Linked DNA regions of Homo sapiens: regions 1 and 3 are each linked to region 2. Evidence: fine-mapped expression QTL. A gene starts in region 2. Each other region holds a variant in brackets. All regions are shown on one strand. Distances are between the middles of the regions.

The links. PIP is the estimated chance that this variant, and not a neighbour inherited with it, causes the effect.
Region 1: its variant is fine-mapped to the expression of PHLDB3 in whole blood (TOPMed, PIP 0.96).
Region 3: its variant is fine-mapped to the expression of PHLDB3 in prefrontal cortex (GTEx, PIP 0.97).

What each region holds. Positions count from the first base shown.
Region 1 is chr19:43,447,296-43,452,516 of GRCh38, reverse strand. No RefSeq gene overlaps it. Among named protein-coding and RNA genes, the nearest start is that of LYPD3, 16 kb to the left of the region's middle. The variant A/G (reference allele first, on the strand shown) is at 2,283.
Region 2 is chr19:43,501,855-43,507,075 of GRCh38, reverse strand. It overlaps PHLDB3 (pleckstrin homology like domain family B member 3), which reads left to right and starts at 2,330. Exons shown (of 16, transcript NM_198850.4): 1 at 2,330-2,487; 2 at 2,944-3,170; 3 at 4,793-4,975; 4 at 5,205-5,221. The coding sequence starts at 2,958. ETHE1 (ETHE1 persulfide dioxygenase) reads left to right here. Exons shown (of 7, transcript NM_014297.5): 7 at 174-357. The coding sequence ends at 226. RefSeq lists silencers at 2,134-2,193, 2,794-3,043 and an enhancer at 2,672-3,194.
Region 3 is chr19:43,455,034-43,460,254 of GRCh38, reverse strand. No RefSeq gene overlaps it. Among named protein-coding and RNA genes, the nearest start is that of LYPD3, 8.0 kb to the left of the region's middle. The variant CA/A (reference allele first, on the strand shown) is at 2,321.

The DNA of each region.
Region 1 (5,221 bases), 55 kb after region 2:
CTGGAATGCTTTTCCATTGTCCTTCCGTCTCTACCTGGTGACACCTACTCTTTCTTTAAGACTTAGCTTGGATGTCCTCTCCATCAGGTATCTTTCCTGACCACCAGTCTGGGTCACATGCCTCATTTGGGGCTTCCCCCATTATTGTTTTGATCACTTGGGATTGTTGCTATCTGGATGTATTGGTCTGGTCTCACATTGCTATAAAGATTCTACCTGAGGCTGGGTAATTGATAAAGAAAAGAGGTTTTTATTTTTTTAATTTATTATTTTTTTTGAGACACAGTCTTGCTCTGTTGCCCAGGCTGGAGTGCAGTGGCACAATCTCGGCTCATTGAAACCTCCGCCTCCCGGATTCAAGTGATTCTCCTGCCTCAGCCTCCTGAGTAGCTGGGATTACAGGCGTGTGCCACCATGCCCAGCTAATTTCTGTATTTTTTAGTAGAGACAGGGTTTCACCATGTTGGTCAGGCTGATCTTGAACTCCTGACCTCATGATCTGCCTGGCTCGGCCTCCCAAAATGCTGGGATTACAGACATGAGCCATCATGCCTGGCCTTTATTTATTATTATTTTTTTTAATATAAGGTCTTACTCTGTTGTCCAGGCTAGAGTGCAGTAGAGAGAAGTTGGCTCAGTGTAACCTCCACCTCCCGGGTTCAAGCAATTCTCCTGCCTCAGCCTCCCAAGTAGCTGAGGTTACAGGTGTCCGCCACCATACCTGGCTAATTTTTGCATTTTCAGGAGAGATGGGGTTTCACCATGTTGGCCAGGATGGTCTTGAACTCCTGACCTCAGATGATCTGCCTGCTTTGGCCTCCCAAAGTGCTGGGAGTACAGGTTTGAGCCACTGCGCCTGGACTGAAAAGAGGTTTAATTGACTCACAATTCTGCATGGCTGAGGAGGACTCAGGAAACTTACAATTATGGCAGAAGGTCAATGGGAAGTAAGGCATGTCTTACATGGCGGCAGCAGAGAAAGAGAGAGAGAGACAGAGAGAGAGAGAGAGAGAGCAAAGGAAATTGCCACTTTTTTTTTTTTTTTTTTTTTTTTTTGAGACAGAGTCTCGCTCTGTCGCCCAGGCTGGAGTGCAGTGGCGGGATCTCGGCTCACTGCAAGCTCCGCCTCCCGGATTCACGCCATTCTCCTGCCTCAGCCTCCCAAGTAGCTGGGACTACAGGCGCCCGCCACTACGCCCGGCTAATTTTTTGTATTTTTAGTAGAGACGGGGTTTCACCGTTTTAGCCGGGATGGTCTCGATCTCCTGACCTCGTGATCCGCCCGCCTCGGCCTCCCAAAGTGCTGGGATTACAGGCGTGAGCCACCGCGCCCGGCCGGAAATTGCCACTTTTAAACCAACAGATCTCGTGAAACCTCCCTCATCAGCACAAAAACAGCATGTGAGAAACCGTCCCCATGATCCAATCACCTCCCACCAGGTCATTCCCTCACACATGGGGATTACAATTTGAGATGAGATTTGGGTGGGGACATGGAGCCAAACCATAACACTGGAAGATGTGTCTGTCTCTGCCCCTGGACTTTGAGTCTCCTGAGGGAAGGGCTGGGGCTATGTTGTCAGTGCCACACACACATCTCAGGGCTGGGCACAGAGGAGGGTTTCAATTATAGTTTGTCGAATGAATAGTGCATGACTTCAGATGTTAGGCAGATCTGTTCATCACAGGATTTCTGAGAAGCAAGGGTGCTGTCTCTTTCTCTTCTCTGCACTTTTTTCCTGACAGGCTTTCTGGAGAACTGAGACTTGAGAGCTGGCACAGTTTGTTCCTGGAGGCCAGCTCTATGCTGCAGGGAAGCGGTTGTGGTTTCTGTGGAAAGTCCCAGAGCAATTCATTTCTTCTTGGTTCCTCCAACCAATCAATCCAATCCAAATTCCTTTGCTGACTCAACACTTTCCCAAATTTTTATTTTTACTTTTGCACAGATGTTTAAAATGAATTATTTAAAACATAGAGAAGTTAAAATAATCTTACAGTGAACACTCATATATACCCATCACCTAGATTCTATTTGTATGATTATTATTATTATTTTTGAGACAGAGTCTCACTTTGTCACCCAGGCTGGAGTGCAGTGGTGTGATCTGGGCTCACTGCAACCTTCACCTCCCAGGTTCAAGCGATTCTCCTGCCTCAGCCTCCTGAGTAGCTGGGATTACAGGTGCCCACCACCACGCCTGGCTAATTTTTGTATTTTTAGTAGAGATGGGGTTTCACCATGTTGGGCAGGCTGGTCTTGAACTCCTGGCCTCAAGTGATTC[A/G]TCCGCCTTGGCCTCCCAAAATGCTGGGATTACAGGGGTGAGCCACCGTGCCCAGCTCTATTTTTATTTTATCTTTGGACACAGGGTCTCACTCCCATAGCCCAGCCTGGAGTGTAGTGGTGCAATCTTGGCTCACTTCAGCCTCGACTTCTGTGGCTCAGGTGATCCTCCCACCTCAGCCTCCTGAGTAGTTGGGACTAGGGGCATGTGCCACCACGCCTGGCTAATTTTTTTTTTGTAGAGATAGATAGGATTTCGCCCTGTTGCCCAGGCTGGTCTCGAACTCCTGTACTCAAGCCATCTGCCTGCCTTGGCCTCCCAAAGTGCTGGGATTACAGGCATGAGCCACCGTGCCTGGCCCCATCACCTAGATTCTAAATTAATTAACATCTTACTCAACTTGCTTTATCAAGTATTTACCCACCTTTCCATCCATCTATCCATCACTCCTTCTTGCCTTTTCAATGCATTTCAAAGTAAGTTGAAAAGCATATTTATTTAGTTTCTCCTCTTCAGGTAAAATTTACATATGCTGAAATGCACAAAACTTAAGCACATTGTTAGAGGAATTCTGACAAATGTGCAGGCCCGTGCCGCCAAAATCCTTATCTTGAATCAGAACATCACCATCACTCCAGAAGGTTGTCTCCCATCCCTTCCCAGTCAGTCCCTGGGTTTCAGAGAGGAATGTAGTGGGTGGGGTGGGAAGAGGAGGCAGAGGTTAGGCCTAAACCTTGAAGGGCCTCATAGGCCACAATAAGAAATACAATAACAATACAAATAGAACACTATGCTGGATGTTTTTCTTTTTTCTTTTCTTCCCTTTTTTTTTTGAGACAGGGTCTCACTCTGTTGCCCAGGCTGTAGTGCAGTGGTACAATCATAGCTCACTGCAGCCTCAAACTCCTAGGCTCAAGCCATCCTCCCTCCTCAGCCTTGGAAATAACTGGAATTACAGGTGCATGCCACCATGCCAGGCTAATTAAAAAAAAATTTTTTTTTTGTAGAGATGAGTCTCATTATGTTGTCCAGGCTGGTCTCGAACTCTTGGCCTCAAGTGATCTTCACACCTCAGCTTCCCAAAGTGCTGGAATTACAGGTGTGAGCTGCTGTGCCCGGACTATGCTGGATATTTTTTGTTTGCCTCTTCAGGTCCACTCTCCACCTCTCCCCGCCATACTCCTGGGAGTCTGACCATACCTTGGGATCAGCATGAACCACAATGAGCTTTCTGAACCTCTAGCTTTCTGCATCGGTTTGCCCAATGGGGAGACACTGGCAAGAAACTGGAGGGTGGGTATTTATTTCCCCAACTCCCTTCTTGATGTACGGTTGCCTTGGGCTGCCTGTATCTTTCTACCCACTGCCTCCACCCTTGTAAATAGACTCCTTTTTTTTTTTTTTTTTTTTTTTTTTTTTAGACAACAGTCTCTCTCTATCACCCAGGCTGGAGTGCTGTCAGTGGCGCCATCTCGGCTCACTGCAACCTCCGCCTCCTGGGTTCAAGTAATTCTCCTACTTCAGCCTCCTGAGTAGCTGGGATTACAGGCGGGCGTCACCACGCCTGGCTAATTATTGTATTGTTAGTAGAGATGGGGTTTCACAATGTCGGCCAAGCTAGTCTCAAACTCTTCACTCAGATGATCCGCCAGCTTTGGCCTCCCAAAATGCTGGGATTACAGGCGTGAGCCAGTGTGCTCAGCCCGATACTTACTTTTAATTACATGTAGATTAAGGCGCGGTTTATGCAGAAATTTCTAGGGAAGGGGTAATGACTTTTGGCTTGTGGGGTTATTGGCATGGAAAGGGGCAGTAACTCCCAGGTGTTGCCATGGCAACGGTAAACTGACGTGGCATACTGGTGGGCGTGTATTATGGGAAACTGCTTAGCTAGTCCTCAATTTGGTCCCATACCCAAGTCCCACCTCTGGAGGTGAGTCCAGCCTCCCACCTCAAAAACAGTGGCATTGGCCAGGCGCGGTGGCTCACGCCTGTAATCCCAGCACTTTGGGAGGCCAAGGCAGGCAGATCTCTTGAAGTCAGGAGTTTGAGACCAGCCTGGCCAACATGGTGAAAACCCATCTCTACTAAAAATACAAAAAAAATTAGTCAGGCCTGGTGGCGGGCCTGACTAATCCCAGCTACTCAAGAGGCTGAGGCAGGAGAATCGCTTGAACCCAGGAGGCGGAGGTTGCAGTGAGCCGAGACCATGCCGCTGCACTCCTGCCTGGGCAACAGAGTGATACTCTGTCTCGAACTCCCCCCACAACAAAAAAACAAAACAAAAAAGCCCCCCAAGCCCCAGAAAAACAAACAAAAAACAGTGGCATCTTGGTGGGGCGCGGTGGCTCATGCCTGTAATCCCAGCACTATGCGAGGCTGAGATGGGAGGATCACTTGAGCCCATGAGTCTGCCCAGCTTGGGCAATATAGCGAGACCCCATCTCTGCTAAAATACAAAAATTAGCTGAGTGGTACGCACCTGTGGTCTCAGCTACTAGGGAGTTTGAGTGCTCACCTAGCAAGCTAAAGTGCAGTAAGATAATCCAGAATGCAAGTACCACTCTAGTGACAACCATCATCACTAGTGTCATCAAGGGCACTTCATATAAAAGTGCCAGTGTGCATCAGGGATAAGAGTGAGACAACATCCACTGGTTCACGGTGAACCGATGAAACAAGAACAACAATTAGGAATTTATTAGGATCAACAGGACTATCCTAAATATCAGCAGTAAATTAGCACATCACAAGAAACTCATGAACATGGGTTAACAAAATGAACCACTGATAAGCCAACTTTTCTGTGTCAAAAGGTGGGAGGTTCACTTGAGCCCAGGATGACGAGGCTGCAGAGAGCCGAGATTGCGCCACCGCACTCCAGCCTGGGTGACAGAGCAAGACCCTGCCTCAAAACAAACAAACAAAACAAGAACAGT
Region 2 (5,221 bases):
TCTGAGGGAGGAGGGGCTGGGGTACTGGACTCCTGGGTCTGAGGGAAGGAGTGGGCTCAGGACCAAAACTCTAGTTTCCTGAAGAGGAAAGGTTCCTAGGATTTCTGGGTCTCCAGTGGGGCCTGGAACTCTACCTAGGCCCCTTAGTTTTAACCTTGATTTCTTCCTTTCAGACTTTGCTGTTCCAGCCAACATGCGCTGTGGGGTGCAGACACCCACTGCCTGATCTCACTTCTGTCAGATGCTCCCATCCACTATTAATGCACTAGGTGGGAGGAGAGGGCGGCAATGACACTGCACCTCTCCTTTCCCACCGCATTCCCTGGAGCTCCCTAAATAAAACTTTTTTTAACGTGAGTCTGACTTCTACCTATTTTCTGGGGGAACCAATTGGGTTTCTGGGCCGAAAGGGGTGGGGTTCTGGTCCTATGGAGAGGCCAGGGAGCCTGCAAGATTTGTTTTCTTTTTCTTTTCTTTTTTTTTTTGAGATGGAGTCTCCCTCCATTGCCCAGGCTGGAGTGCAGTGGCACGATCTCGGCTCACTGCAACCTCTGCCTCCCGGGTTCAAGCGATTCTCCTGCATCAGCTTCCCAAGTAGCTGGGACTACAGGCGCGTGCCACCATGCCCGGCTAATTTTTTCATATTTTTAGTAGAGACAGGGTTTGACCATGTTAGCCAATATGATCTTGATCTCCTGACCTCGTGATCCACCAGCCTCGGCCTCCCAAAGTGCTGGGATTACAGGTGTGAGCCACCGCGCCCAGCCCGGGAGCCCACAAGATTTCTAACTCACAAGATCAAAAACAAACACAGCTATCTGGGGCAGGTCTTCTCATCACCTTGGATTAGAACACCGGCTTGCTTTTGAGCCACTTCCCACTTAGCCCTGGGGTAAGTTACTTCACTTCTCTAGGCCTCAGTTTTCTTATCTCTAAAATGGAAGGAATAATAATGGGGTGTTGTGATGCTCTGATGAGTCAATGTGTGTGAGTGCCTGGCACATGGCCTATCAGTGTTCACCATTAAAGTTACTATCATTTAGAATGATCTTTTGGGTACTTCCTGGCTTGTAGTGACAGTATACGCAATGGTTAAGAACATGGACTTTTGAGAGAATGAAGCCTGCATTTTACCACTTACAACATGTGTAGATGTTGGCTACATTTTTTTTTTTTTTTCTGAGATGGGGTCTTACTCTGTCGCCCAGGCTGGAGTGCAGTGGCACATTCAAGACTCACTGCAGCCTCGACCTCCTGGGCTCGAGATATCCTCCTGCCTCAGCCTCTGGAGTAGCTGAGATGACAGGTGTGTGCCACCACGCCTGGCATAATTTTTGTATTTTTAGTAGAGATGGGGTTTCTCCATGTTGCCCAGGCTGGCCTTGAACTCCTGATCTCAAGCAATCCACCTGCCTCGGCTTCCCAAAGTGCTGGGATTACAGGCCTGAGCCTCTGTGCCCAGCCAACCTTGGGTGCATTTGTCCTCCTCAGCTTGTATCCCCAAGTGTAAAATGGAGATAGTAGGCCAGGAGCGGTGGCTCACGCCTGTAATCTCAACACTTTGGGAGGCTGAGGCAGGCAGGTTGTTTGAGCCCAGGAGTTCAAGATCAGCCTGGGCAACCTGGAGAAACCCAGTCTCTACTAAAAAAAAAGAAATGGAGGTAGTAATCACTTTCTCGCTGGACAGCTTTGAGGGTGAAATTAAATGACTGGGTATAAAGTGTTTCACACAGCTCTTGACTTCTAATCATCCCTTTTCATATACCAGTTATTTTCCTGTTTTCATTTTCCTGTTTTCGCCCAGAGAGGAAAGGGTCTGGCTGAGACCTTTAACCTCTGCCCTCCACCCCATAGCAAAGTTGTGGGGGGGTGGCGGTACACTTCCCTCAGTCTCTGGGCAGGTGTCTGACTCAGTTCAGGGCACCCCTTCCCCTTGTCCAGCTCCCCAAACCGGTCAGGGCCCTTCTGAAGGGCTCATTAGAGGGGAGACGTCCCCATCTCCATTCCTGCCTTCCTTTCTGAACTCCCAAGGTCTGGACATTAGAGAGGCTCCCATACAGAGGTGGCCAAGACTCCTCCAGGGGGGCAGGAATGAGGGGCTCGAGGGAGACTGGGAGGTCGCGATGCTGAGTTCCACGAGGGTGGGGCCGGGCCGGGGCCGGTGGGGCCGGGATGGCCGGATGCCGAGGCCACGGGTGGGGCAAGCCCGTGGCTCCCTCCTCCCTCGGGAGCTGTTGGACCTGTTGTCCCCCCTCCACTTCCGGGCTGCTGGGGAGGGGGACCGGGCGGCCTCTCTCCTCCCTCTTCCCCTGCCACCTGTCTCATAGGCAGAAGCGGCCGTGCCCAGCGCGCAGAGCGGAGCGCGCCGAAGCCTGAGCTCGTGAGGGGGCCGAGGCTGTGGGGAGGTGGCAGTTGGACTTCGGAATCTCAAGGACTCCGACTCCTGGCTTGTTCAGAGAAGGAGAGCCCCGACTCCTGGATCCCTGGGTGAGGCGGCGTGGGCACGGTTGCCCTGCACAGTGGGGTCGGGACTAAGACTACGGGGCTCCGGGAAGGATGGGGCGGGAGCCGAACTGCTGAGTCTCGGAGGGAGAAGATGGGTCGCTCTAAGCGAATCCAAGAGATTGTAGGGGGCTGCTGGGAGGGTACAAGGCCTGACACCTAGAGATGAGGGAGGGGAGGCGGGGTCGAAGAGGTCAGTAGGGGGCGTGCTACGACCCGGACTCAAATTCCGGTCCCGTCTCCGGTGGCGTGTCGCCTTGGAGCCATCAAGCCCCGCCTCTGGAAACTTCAGGACACGCCTCCGTAACGCTCAGTTCCATCCTTTGAACTCTTAGGCCCCGCCTCCTTGGGGGGGGGTCTCCGCGCCCCGGAGCAGACGCGAGCGGCGCTCAGCCGTCCTAGGCCCCGCCCCCGGAGCTTCTGGTCCCGCCCACCCCGCAGGAGTCCCAGCGGCCATGGGGACGCGAAGCAGCCCCGAGGAGGGGACCCCGCCGCCGCTGGTCCCGGAATGCGACGTGGAGGTCCAGCCCCAGGGCCATCCCGAGGAGTCCCGGGAACAGGAGGCATCCGAAGTCCTGGCGGAACCTTCGAGCCGCGGGGGAGCTGAGCAGCAGGCAGAGGAAGAAGAAGTGGGAGAAGGCAGCAGCACTGAGAGCAGCCGCGACGCGGTGAGGGGCCCGAGGGCGACAGCGCGGGGGGCTTGGACCGACGGGGACCCAAACAGGTGGCCAGACAGGTAGACAGGTAGAGGGAAACCAGAAAGACAGAGACCCGGAGACAGGGAGAGAGACCGAGTGATAGCAGAGACTACTGAGAGAGAGATACACCAGGACACGGAGCCAGAGAGGCAGAGGCACAGACAGACAGAAACCAGATACAGAGACAGAAACCAGATAGAGCCACGGGGAGGCCCCAAGAACGGAGATAGACCCAAACGGGCGACAGAGACAGAGAGACTAGTATAGAGGAACCAGATAGGTGGCTCACGCCTGTAATCCCAGCACTTGGGGAGGCCGAGGGGAGGATTGCTTAAGCCCAGGAGTTCGAGACAAGTCTGGGCAACATAGCAAATCCCTGTCTCTAGAGAAAAAAAAAATACAAAAATTGTCCAAGCGCAGTGCCGCGTGCCTGTAATCCCAGCTACTCGGGAGGCTGAGGCAGGAGGATCGCTTGAGCCCAGGAGTTGTAGGCTGCGGTGAACTATGACTGCGCCACTGCACCCCAGCCTGGGACAAAGCAGAACCTATCTCTAAAAATGAGAGAGAGAGAGAGAGAGAGAGAGAGAGAGAGAGACCAGATAGACAGACAGGAGAGACTACAGAACAGAGAGAACCAAACGAGTAAGAGATGCAGAGAGATCAAGAAGCCAGACAGAGACCCAGAGACATGGAGACTGAGAGACAAAGACCCCAAAAAGACAGAGACACAGTGAGACTAGAGTCAGAGAGAGGGGAATCGAGACAGAGGGAAACCCAGAAATAAATGGCAGAGATGCTCAGAGAAACAAATAGACAAAAACCTCGAGAGAGGGACATACTCCGAGGAAGAAAGATCTAGTGATTCTAGTGGACAGATCTAGTGGACAGATACCGAATCTGAGAGACTGGGGTCAGGTGGAGAGACAGAGACAGATCCAGGCACTACAAGAAAGTGACGCCAAGAGAATAGGACCTGATAGAGAAAAAGAAACACCTTTCATAAGTCGGCTTTACACCTGCTCACCCTCCATACGGTACTGCAAGCCTCTGTGGTCCGTGTGGTTGGGTGGTCACGGGACTTGCACCCTCCCCCACTCCGACCTTAAATACAGGGGTCTGAGGCCGGGCGCGGTGGCTTATGCCTGTAATCGTAGCACTTTGGGAGGCCGAGGTGGGAGAATCCCTTGAGCCTAGGAGTTTGAGACCAGCCTGGGCAACATAGCATCGCCCCCTCTCTGCCAAAAAAAAAAAAAAAAAAAAAGAGCTTGGCGTGGCGGTGCGCGCCTGTAGTCACAGCTACCTAGGAGGATGAGGCAGAAGAATCGCTTGAGCGAGGGAGGTCGATGCTGCAGTGAGCCGTAATCGCGCCACTGCACTCCAGCCAGTGAGACCCTATCTCAGGACAAAAAAAAAAAAAAGATAAGAAAGAAAAAGAAAAGAGCCTGCGACAGATTATGGGAGTGGTGGTTGTGTTAGGTAAGTGGACTGATGGACTGAGACCCGCAGAGGGTGATGTTGGGTGGGGACCAGACCTACTTAGTGATTGCAGGGGGCGAGGCATCTCCACTTAACCACGCCCCCCTCAACTTCAGCCCGAGGCTACGCCTCCGATAGCTATGGCGGCCACACCTCCCGCATCCACCTCTTCGCGGGAAGGGGTGCGAGGGGCGGCGCGGCGCCTGCAAGGACAGCAGCTGGAGGCATTGACTCGTGTGGCCCTGATGGAGCAGCGAGTGAAGGAGCTACAGCGCCAGAGGAAGGAGCTGAGGATCGAGGTGAGGCTGCGGACCCCTTGGGAAGCCTGGCCCCAACTCAAGCGGAACCCGCAAAGCCGGACTCCCAGCTTTTTCCTCGGGTGGGATCAGATTTTAGGCCCTCCGCTCTTCCTCCCTCCAAATTCAGGTCCCTGGAGTCCATCCTCCCTTCGAATCCGGTAGTTCAGGCCCTGGGCCTCTTCCTTGGACCTAGGCGTCCGAGCCCCCAGCCCTGGCATTCTCTCCGCAGATGGAGGTGGAGGTGGC
Region 3 (5,221 bases), 47 kb after region 2:
CAGGCAGGAGCCACTGCACCCGGCTTCATCTGGTTTACTAAGAGTCATTAAGCCTGGGTGCAGTGGCTCATGCCTGTAATGCCAGCACTTTGGGAGGCAGAGGCAGCTGGATCACCTGAGGTCTGGAGTCCGAGACCAGCCTGACCAACATGGAGAAACCCTGTCTCTACTAAAAATACAAAATTAGCTGGGCATGGTGGCACATGCCTGTAATCCCAGCTACTCGGGAGGCTGAGGCGGGAGAATCGCTTGAACCCAAGAGGTGGAGGTTGCGGTGAGCCGAGATCACGCCACTGCACTCCAGCGTGGGCAAAGAGTGAAACTCCGTCTCAAAAAAAAAAGTCATTAACTGGGCTTACCTACTGTGTCCCACTTGTCTGTAGGACCCGGGGGTGCTGCTGTTGGTCTTTGCTTGATGTTGGGGACCTGGGGCTTGAGCCCCACCTCCATCTCCTTCCAATCAGATGAAGGCCTGGCCCTAGAGGCACTGGAGGGGAAAAGCCTGGTTTGGGAATGAGAGAGTTCCTGGTAGGCTTTGCGACTGCTTGATGGGAGGAGGATCAGATGTGGGGAATAGTGAGATCATAACAGTATATTGCCAATATTGCTATTGATAGCCAATATTACTATTGATAATGGGGAGTAGTGTGAGGTAACAACAAAACAATAGCAAATAAGGAGAATAGCAACAAAATAGAACATCAATAAGAGTATGAGCTCTTATTCTGAAACACATATATTGCAATACATGTATAGAGGGAAACATCAGTGATGGTAAATGTAGTGTTGGGAGTATTAATGATTTTTCTTTTTTTTTTTTTTTGAAATGGAGTTTTGCTCTTGTTACCCAGGCTGGAGTGCAATGGCACAATCTCAGCTCGCCACAACCTCCCCTCCCAGGTTCAAGCGATTCTCCTGCCTCAGCCTCCCGAGTAGCTGGGATTACAGGCATGTGCCACCATGCTTGGCTAATTTTATATTTTTAGTAGAGATGGGGTTTCTCCATGTTGGTCAGGCTGGTCTCAAACTCCTGACCTCAGGTGATCCACCCACCTTGGCCTCCCAAAGTGCTGGGATTACAGGCGTGAGTCACCATGCCCGGCAGAGATTTTTAAATTTTAATTTAACTTTTATTTGTATTGTAGAGATTGGCGTCTCACTATGTTACCCAGGCTGGTCTCGAACTCCTGGGCTCAGATGATCCTCCTGCCTCTGTCTCTCAAGTGCTGGGATTACAGATGTGAGGCACCGTGCCCAGCTGTGTTAGTGATTAAAGACAGTCTTACTAGATGCCAAGTCTATGCTATCAGTTTACAGCCATCATCTCATTGACTTTTCCACATATTTTCAGATGGGATGATTGGGGAAACTGAGGCTCAGAATGATGAAGTAATTACCCACAGCAAATAATACATTGATTATGTGCCAGGTACTGTATTAAGTGCTGTACTTGGATTAATATATTTAATCTACAAAACCATCCTATGAAGTAAGTGTTAATCACCTGCATTTTACAAGATGGGGAAATCAGGGCTAGAGAGGTTAAGAAACTTGCCCCACGTCACTCAGCTATTAAGCAGTGGAGCTCGGATTTGAACACGGGCAGGTCAGCTTTACAGAGTGTACCAACACTGCCATAATGTTTCCCTCAGCTTGACTAAACTTTAGACAGGCTTCCTCCTGCCTCTAGGCCCTCAGAATCCAGAGGGTCTAACCACAGAGGCCCCTTACCTCCCTTTTCTTAGAGCATTTACTTGAGAAAACTTGTCATTGTAAATTATTTCTTTGTCCATTTGAGATGGATATAAACCTCTTTAAAAGTCTTGGCCGGGCGCGGTGGCTCACGCCCGTAATCCCAGTACTTTGGGAGGCCAAGGCGGGTGGATCACGAGGTCAGGAGTTCAAGACCAGCCTGACCAACATGTTGAAACCCCGTCTCTACTAAAAATACAGAAATTAGCCAGGTGTGGTGGCAAGTGCCTGTAATCCCAGCTACTCAGGAGGCTGAGGCATGAGAATCGCTTCAACCTGGGAGGCGGAGGTTGCAGCGAGCCAAGATCACGCCATTGCACTTCAGCCTGGGGGCGACAAAATGACACTCTGTCACAAAAAAAAAAAGAAAAAAAAAGTATCTTGCCAGTTGATAGCCCAGGAAATGGAGTCTCACTATGTTGCCCAGGCTGATCTTGAACTGGGGTCAAGCTATCTTCCTGCCTTGGCTTCTCAAAATGCTGGGATTACAGGGATGAGTGACCAGGACCCAGGAAACTATCTTTTTGAAATTGTAAACATAAAAGGAAATAGCACTCCTATCTCCCCC[CA/A]GGAAGGTGAGAGCCTAACTTTGGTACATGACTCAGCTCTCAGTTGTAAAATACCTCCTGTCATGAAGACAGAAGAAAGTTGCCTTCTCTTCTGGGTAAAGCCGATTAAAAATGCAAATGACCTACAATCGCCATTCACCCCAGCTCAAAATCCCTACCACTCAGCTGGGCGTGGTGGCTCATGCTTGTAATCCCAGCATTTTGGGAGGCTGAGGCAGGCGGATCCCTTGAGTCCAGGAATTTAAGACCATCCTGGGCAACCTCGTCTCTAAGAAAAATACATTAAAAATTAGCCAGGTGTGGTGGCACGTGCCTGTAGTCCCAGCTACTTGGGGATGCTGAGGTGGGAGGATCGCTTGAACCCTGGAGGCCGAGGTTGCAGTGAACCATGATGGTGCCACTGCACTCCAGCCTGGGTGACAAAGCAAGACACTGTCTCAAAAAAAAGAAATCTGGCTTCCAATGCTTTTTTTTGTTGTTGTTTGAGATGGAGTCTCACTCTGTTGCCCAGGCTGGAGTGCAGTGGCGTGATCTTGGCTCACTGCAACTTCTGCCTCCCAGGTTCAAGCAATTCTCCTGCCTCAGCCTCTCGAGTAGCTGGGACTACAGGTGCACACCACCACGCCCGGCTAATTTTTGTATTTTTAGTAGAGATGGGAATTCGCTATGTTGGCCAGGCTGGCAATATATTTACTTAGCGGATCCATCCCCCTGAAAGTAACCAATCTTTTGCAGCTGTCACTGTCCAGCCTTCCCATCTTCTTGGGAGGATGACCTCCTTATCCATCTTGGCCTCTGAAACCCATTATGGGCCCTGAGACTCCCGCTCCCCCACCGCAACCCCTCCAACCTCCTTCCAGACAGTTACTTGCTTGTGTTCAGGAGGAGAAGAGAAAAGAAGAGCTTAATGTGTTTCAAATATAATCAATTGTTTTGCTCATCTAGTTTCTACTTTTAAGCTCCTAGCTCTGCTTTCTGTTAAAAATACCAGATTCTGGCCAGGTGTGGTGGCTCATACCCATAATCGCAACATTTTGTGAGGCCGAGGCGGGTGGATCTCTTGAAGTCAGGAGTTTGAGACCAGTCTGGCCAATATGGCGAAACCCCATCTCTACTAAAAATGCAACAAAATCGGCTGGGCATGGTGGCTCACGCCTGTAATCACAGCACTTTGGGAAGTCGAGGCGGGCGGATCACCTTAGGTGAGGAGTTCGAGACCAGTCTGGCCAATATGGCGAAACCCCATCTCTACTAAAAATGCAACAAAATCGGCTGGGCATGGTGGCTCACGCCTGTAATCCCAGCACTTTGGGAGGTCGAGGCGGGCGGATCACCTTAGGTCAGGAGTTCAAGACCAGTCTGGCCAATATGGTAAAACCCTGTCTCTACTAAAAATACAAAAATTAGCTGGACGTGGTGGCGGACTCCTGTAGTCCCAGCTACTCAGGAGGCTGAGGCAGAAGAATCGTTTGAACCTGGGAGGCGGAGCTTGCAGTGAGCCAAGATTGTGCCATTGCACTCCAACTTGGGTGACAGAGTGAGACTCTGTCTCAAAAAAAAAAAAAAAAAATCAGCCAGGCTTGGTGGTGCGCGCCTACAATCCCAGCTACTTGGGAGGCTGAGGCAGGAGAATCACTTGAACCCGGAAGGCGGAGGCTGCAGTGAGCTGTGATTGTACCACTGCACTCCAGCCTGGGCGACAGAGTGAGACTCTGTCTCTCTCTCTTTCTCTCTCTCTCACACACAGACACACACACACACACACACACACACACACACACACACAGCCAGATTCTGTATAACTTATTAGACTGGACACGGCTTTAAAGTGTTTTTAATGACAGCTCACCAAAACAGAAGTGAGAGAAAGAAGAAAAAGGACGAGGAGAAAGAAAGGGAAGAGAGAGTGAGAGGGTTTAGCCGTACGAAAAGCCACAGAGGGGGAAAGTTACAAAATCTCTTTCCTGTATTTTTTCCAAGGTTTGATGTCTGAGGTCCATGTGTGAGAAATTGATTTCAGCCTCTTTTTCAGGGCTTGCTGGGGACAAGGCAGGTGTGACAAGGGGCAGGGTGGATCTGCCTGAACTGGCCTTGCTGGTTTCTCTTCTTCCTGGGTTTGTGTGTTTTTAACGAAGGGCTTGTTTAATTTTAATTACATAAGCAAGACATGACTATCTTCTTGCTGTCAAACATTAAAAAAATACAGAGACAGCAAGAGAGAGAGAGAGAGAGAGTGCTCAAAAAGCCCTTTTGAGAAATGGTTGGTCAATCAGTTGCAGGGGAGGGAAATTGGGGTGCAATTTGGAAACGTCTTTCTAAATGACAAATGCAGATCGCTTCTGACTTGGCAGGTTTTTCTCTCAGGAATTTATCTCACATGTAGACATGGACGCCTGAGGCTGATGTCAGGTCTGCTCCAGGATGTTAATTGCAGTAGTGTTTGGAATAACAAAACATTAGGAATAACCTAAATGTTTATCAGGAGGGAACTGGTTATGCTTATGATGGTGTGCTCACACAGTTTGATGCTTTATGGGCATTATAAAAATAAAATGAGCTAGGTGCAGTGGTTCACGCTTGTAATCCCAGCACTTTGGGAGGCCGAGGCGGGTGGATCACCTGAGGTCAGGAGTTCAAGACCATCCTGGCCAACATGGCGAAACCCCCTCTCTACTAAAAATACAAAAAGTAGCTGGGCGTGGTGGTGGGTGCCTGTAATCCCAGCTACTTGGGAGGCAAGGCAGGAGAATTGCTTGAACCCAGGAGGTGGAGGTTGCAGTGAGCCAAGATCACGCCACTGCACTCTAGCCTAGGTGACAGAGTGAGACTCTGTCTCAAAAATAAATTAATTAAATAAAATAAATAAAACCAGGCACATCTATTTGTATTAATGTGGAAAG